Regions from separate parts of the Homo sapiens genome. Here region 2 is linked to region 1. Evidence: fine-mapped expression QTL. Tissue or cell type: whole blood. Region 1 holds a variant in brackets; the other region holds the start of a gene. All regions are shown on one strand. Distances are from middle to middle.

Evidence for each region. PIP is the estimated chance that this variant, and not a neighbour inherited with it, causes the effect.
Region 2: it holds the start of CHID1, and the variant in region 1 is fine-mapped to the expression of CHID1 in whole blood (INTERVAL, PIP above 0.99).

The regions. Positions count from the first base shown.
Region 1 is chr11:869,143-871,977 of GRCh38, forward strand. It overlaps CHID1 (chitinase domain containing 1), which reads right to left. Exons shown (of 13, transcript NM_023947.4): 11 at 1,277-1,357; 12 at 979-1,021; 13 at 1-814. The coding sequence ends at 716. Among named protein-coding and RNA genes, the nearest start is that of TSPAN4, 28 kb to the left of the region's middle. RefSeq lists an enhancer at 1,465-2,227. The variant C/T (reference allele first, on the strand shown) is at 1,325.
Region 2 is chr11:909,440-912,070 of GRCh38, forward strand. CHID1 (chitinase domain containing 1) reads right to left here and starts at 1,371. Exons shown (of 13, transcript NM_023947.4): 1 at 1,336-1,371. RefSeq lists a silencer at 1,054-1,893.

The DNA of each region.
Region 1 (2,835 bases):
GCCCACGGGTCCTGCCGTTGCCCCTCACCATGCTCCCTGATGTGTCCAGGCTGGCCTGGGGGTCGTGCTACCTGAGGCGGCAGAGCTGAGCCAAGGTCCAGGACCAGTTTCAAGAGGGTGGGCCAGGCTCCTCTGAGCCCATTTCTAGGGCAGCCCCTGCACCCTTGCCGTGCTGGACTCGGTGGGGACGTCTGGGTGGCTCTCTGCAGGTGACACACGTGCTGTGGCTGGCCAGGTGGGTGGCAGGTATGTGGGGGTGGAGCTCTCAGCTCTATCACTGCCAGGCCCTGGGGTGATGCTGGGCAGAGCTGTCCCTGCGAGGGCCCTCGAATCCAGGAGTGGGCGAGTCCGGGATGGTTCCAGAGCTTCCAAACCCACATCCAGCCCAGGATGTGAGAAGCAGCCCAGAAAGGCCTGAGCCAGGCTGTCCTGGTGGGGCAGGTACTGTGGGCCCCGCCTGCCCAGCTGACAGGAGGCAGCCAGCGGATGCCCGGGTGGGAGGGGCTCGAGCTCTCAGGGTGTCCCCCAGCTAGGACTCATCCAGGGCAGGGACCCCTCATGGGAGGATGGGGAGTCACATGGTGCCCAGGACCCCCGACTGAGGACTGCAGCAGACCCGTCACAGCAAACGGAGTGGAGGCCTGTATTTCACACCTGCTCACTCACTCCATGGCTTAGAAAAGAACACGTCCACCGCGGAGGCCGCAATGCCCACCTAGAGCAGGTCGTAGAAGTAGTCCAGGCCCTGGCCCAGCTCCCAGATAGAGACCCCAACGCCCAGCTCCCGGGCCAGCTCCAGCCGCACCTGCAGGGACTGGGCACAGATGGAGGTGTGAGCACCTGCTGGGGCCTGTCCCCCCAACACCCAGGGATGTCCTCCAGGCCGAGGGGCAGCACCGCCTGGACCCCAGGCCAGTGCCTGCTGTGCTGTCGCATGGCCCACCCCTCCCCCGGTCCCACGGCTGGCAGCACACGCACCTTCAGGGTTGGGTAGAAGACGACGTGCCTCCCACTGCGGCTCCTGCAAGACAAAGGGACTGTCAGCCCATCCGCTCTGCTGGTTCCAGGCCTCCTCCCCTCACAGCCAAGGTCCACGGCCTGTACTCCTCCCACCCACCAGGTGGCCACCTGCTGTCCAGCTGTGCTCCAGGGCCGGGAGCAGCAAGTGAGCTCGTGACCCTGAGACCCCCTGGGCCCTGCTGCTCCCTCATCTCCACCCCCAGGGCCCCTCCCTGCACACAAGGCCAAGGTGGGCCACGCACTTCAAAACACTCACTTCTTGTACTCGAAGAAGTGCTCTGAGGCCTGGCTGTCCCACACCATC[C/T]GGGGCCTGTGGTCCTTCAGTGTCTGGATGTACCTGGGGAGACCAGGATATGGATTTGGGAGCCCACCCAGCTCCCCCACAGCCCCACCCTGTACCCCCAAAGGCTGTGGCTCTCAGCAGGGGCAGGGCCACTCGGGGCAGCCACTGTCCCCAGTGGTCTGGGGGACAACACCTGGTGGGGTGGCCAGAGCCCCAGGCCGTGTGAACCCTGTATTAGAGGAAACCTCAGGAAAAACATCTTCCAGGAGCTTCCTCGGAAGAAGCCACCCCACCAAGTCCTTTCAGTGGCCTGGAGAGTGACACGGGGCCTGAAACTGCCTGAGCCTGAGGGTGACCCTCAGGCCGCGCAGCGGCTGCTGGACAGGGCTCCTCACTCTGTCCAGACCCCAGGTGAGAGGCTAACCAGACAGGCCTCAGGCTGCCCTGGCCCCGCTGCTGGCCCTGGACTGATGGGCAGTGCCTCGTACTGGGTGGGCAGTGCCTTGTACTGGGGATGGCTGCCCGGGGCAGTGGTTTCTGCACCTTTTTTTTTTTTTTTTTTTGAGACGGAGTCTCACTCTGTCGCCCAGGCTGGTGTACAGTCGTGCGATCTTGGTTCACTGCAACCTCTGCCTCCCAGATTCAGGTGATTCTTCTGCCTCAGCCTCCTGAGTAGCTGGGACTACAAGCACACATCACCATGCCCGACTAATTTTTGTTATTTTTTAGTAGAGATGCGGTTTCACCGTATTGGCCAAGCTGGTCTCGAACTCCTGACCTCGTGATCTGTCCGCCTTGGCCTCCCAAAGTGCTGGAATTACAGGCGTGAGCCACCGCGCCTGGCCTCTGCACCCTTTCAAAGACTGAGTCTGCCTCAGTCTTGAACAATGACCACCCCATGCCCAGGACAGCAGCAGGCCCCTCCTGAGCACCAAGAGTCAGTGGTTTGAGAACCACCCCCTCCTTCACACAGAGGACAGGCTCATTCCCAAGGTGCTGGGGACACGACTGCGGCTTCCAGGTCACGGGGCCCTGAGTGTGTGCACATCTCACACTGCACATTTGGGACCAGGGCAGGTGGTTCCAGAAGCTTCTGGTCTCCACAGACAGGAGTCTGTGCAGGTGGAGGCAGCTGACAATGGAACATGACCAGTGCCTGCTGCGTGAGGACAGTGCCCCCCACGTGCCTGGGGCTGCAGCCTCAGGGAGGAGGCCTGGCGTGGGGCCTACAGCCCGGGTGCCATGTGGGAGGGGAGGACAGGCAGTAGGCAACTGCAGGGGCGCAGGGACCTGGGCCGTGTGGCATGGACATCCGCAGGATCCTAAGGGGTCACAGATGGACAGTGCAGGGTTTATCCAAGTGAGAAATGGCCACAGGACCGCACCTCGAGCCACCTTTCTGCTCCTGCCCAGGAGTAGTGGGATGTTTGAGGCTCCCAAACGGGAAAGGCTGCTGTTGTCCTGAGCAGGGCAGAGTCCCCTTGACACTGGGAGCCTCTTCCAGACTAGGGCACATGTCACTTCAGAGCTGT
Region 2 (2,631 bases), 40 kb after region 1:
CTGCTCCCACTTTCCTGCGCTCCCAGTCCGTAGGTCCAGGACCTCCTCGGTGGTGTTGATGGAAATGATGGGAGTCACAGCAGGGGCTTTCCAATGCTTTTCATGGAGACCAGCAGTAAGAAATGCACTTTACGTCACAGCCCAGCACACGTGTATGTCATGTGTGCACATGTGTTGTGCATGTGTGTACATGTGTAGAGCGACAGCAGCCAATCAGAGCTAACTCTATTCTGCGATGGACGCACTGACAACTCCTGTTCTGTTGTGTTTTGAAGAACTAACTGGTGCATGGCGGCTCTGGCCTGTGATCCTAGCACTTTGGGAGGCCAGGAGTTTTTGACTGGTTTTGGCAACACAGCCAGACCTGGTCTCTACAAAAAATATTTTTCTGCCGGGCAGATCACCCCATCAGGAGTTCAAGACCAGCCTGGCCAACGTGATGAAACCCAGTCTCTAAAAAAGATACAAAAATTAGCTGGGTGCAGTGGTGTGCGCCTGTACTCCCAGCAACTCGGGAGACTGAGGCAGGAAAATCCCTTAAGCCCAGAAGCGGAGGTTGCAGTGAACCGAGATCGCGCCACTGCACTCCAGCCTGGGTGACAGCGTGAGACTCTGTCTCAAAAAAAAAAAAAAATTCTTAGCTGAGTGCGCTGGCGCACACCTGTAGTCCCAAGTAGCTAGGAGGCTAAGAGATTACTAGAGCCCAGGAAGTCGAGGCGGACGGGCGGGCGGGTCACCCTCCAGTTTGGACAGTCAGCAATGGAAGCTTCAAGGGTTGGGGCTGAACCAAGGGTGGGTGGGATCGCGTCTGATGCGCCCACCCTTCACGGGGACCGCGTGCCCCTCACTGGGAGGGCAGCCCGCCTGGAGCCCTACTGCCTCTGCTCCCTCTGGGGGTCCTGGGGACCCGATGGCCACCACTCTGCCACACGAGCCGCGCGCTCACACACTCCTCACCCGCCGGCCACATCCCTTGTCTGCGCACTCAGGCCCCTTCCACCCAGCGCGCCTAGCTCTCAGGCTTGCTCGCCCCAGCGCACGCGCTCCACCTCCCACTCGCGGTCCCCCCGACACGCGCCCCCGTCCACACTCGCCCTCCACCCCCGCTCTCGCTCACCCTCGCTCTCATAGCAACCCTCTCTCACCCTCGTCCTCACACCCTCTCACACGCCCCCTCACACACTTGCTCTCTCTCACGCACCCGCCCGGCGTCGCCCGCGACCCCACGCCCGTCCTCCCGGGGCCGAGCCTCGCTGCCCGGCGCGCCCACTTTGCGGGAGGGAAACTGAGGCCGTGCAAGGAGGAGGAGCAGGGGCCGGCCGCCGCGGGGCTCACCTGCATGTCAGGGAGGCCGGACGGCCACAAACGCACGGCCGGAAAACGCTCCAGCGCGCCGGAAGTCCCGCCCCAGGCGCCCGCGCGCCGCCGCCGCGCACGGCACGCTGGGATGGAGAGGGGCTGGGCCAGGACAGGGGACTGGGCAGGGCTGCCCGAAAGTCGGGGCCGGGGCCGGGGCCGGGGCCGGGGCGGGGCCGCGCCGGGGGCGGACCCCGGGCCCGGCGCGTTCACCTTGAGCGCCCCTGGTGCTCGCGCTGGAGCTGGTTATCAGGTTCCCGGCCCAGGGGTAGCCGGGTTCCCAGCGCCACGGCTCTTAGGCAGGCCTGGCGCCCTTGGCGTGGGGCCGCGCGGGGCCTTGGGCTCCAGGGCCTCTGCCCGGCTCGGCGGTGCCGGGAGAACCGCGCGGTGGGCTCCGCCCCGGCACGCTCCCCCGGGGACCCGGAGTCACCACTCCTGGCGTCCCCCCGACCCCCGCCTGAGTGGACCATCTCCATCCCCAGGCCGATGGCGCCCACTGCGCTGTCTCCAGCGGGGACTGCCCGAAACGCGCGCTCTCTCGGTCCGCACCCCCGCCTTGCACATTGCACGAGCCGGAGCCCCAGGAGGCAAACCAAGTTCCCAACTCAGCCCCTCGCGCTTGGATGAACGAGCGCGTGGCCAGCACTTTTGAGTCACCGCGCATTCTACGCGGCACAGGCTGTCCGACCCCCACCCCCAGCCCTAGCCGTTCCCAGCGCAGTTTCCTACAGAAAACCGCACGGCCGGGCCCCACCCTGCCCCGCTCAGCCGTTCCCGGGGCGCGCGTGGGCTCCAAGACACCCTGCACAGCTGCTTCTCCATTTCTGCTGCTTGGGAGCTTTCTCCTTAAACTAAGCTTTGTCTTTCTTTCTAGTCACGTTTCCTTCTTTCCCTTCCCGGTATTTTCTGCCAGCTGACGCCCACGCCTTTCCTAGAAGGGGCTGGGGGCTGCATGCGGTGCGAGGCACGTCCCCCACCAGCTGTGGGCTCTTACTCAGCTTAGCACTCGCTCTCAGCAAACGGCCTGGATGGTGGCCTGAAGCCTGACCTTTGGGGGTGAAGACCTCAAGTCGGCAGAGCTCTGGAGAGGGTCCCAGTAAGCTATGGCAGGTGTCCTCAGGGACATATGCGCAGTCCTCCCAATGCTAAGGAGGCCATGGCAACATCCAACTTCTCTTAGGAAAGGCACTTAGCCATTTTAGGATCTCATTGAGGTCAGAGGTCTTTGGCGCTAAAGAATTGCAGAATCGATCGGGCAGCCGCCGCCTTTAATCC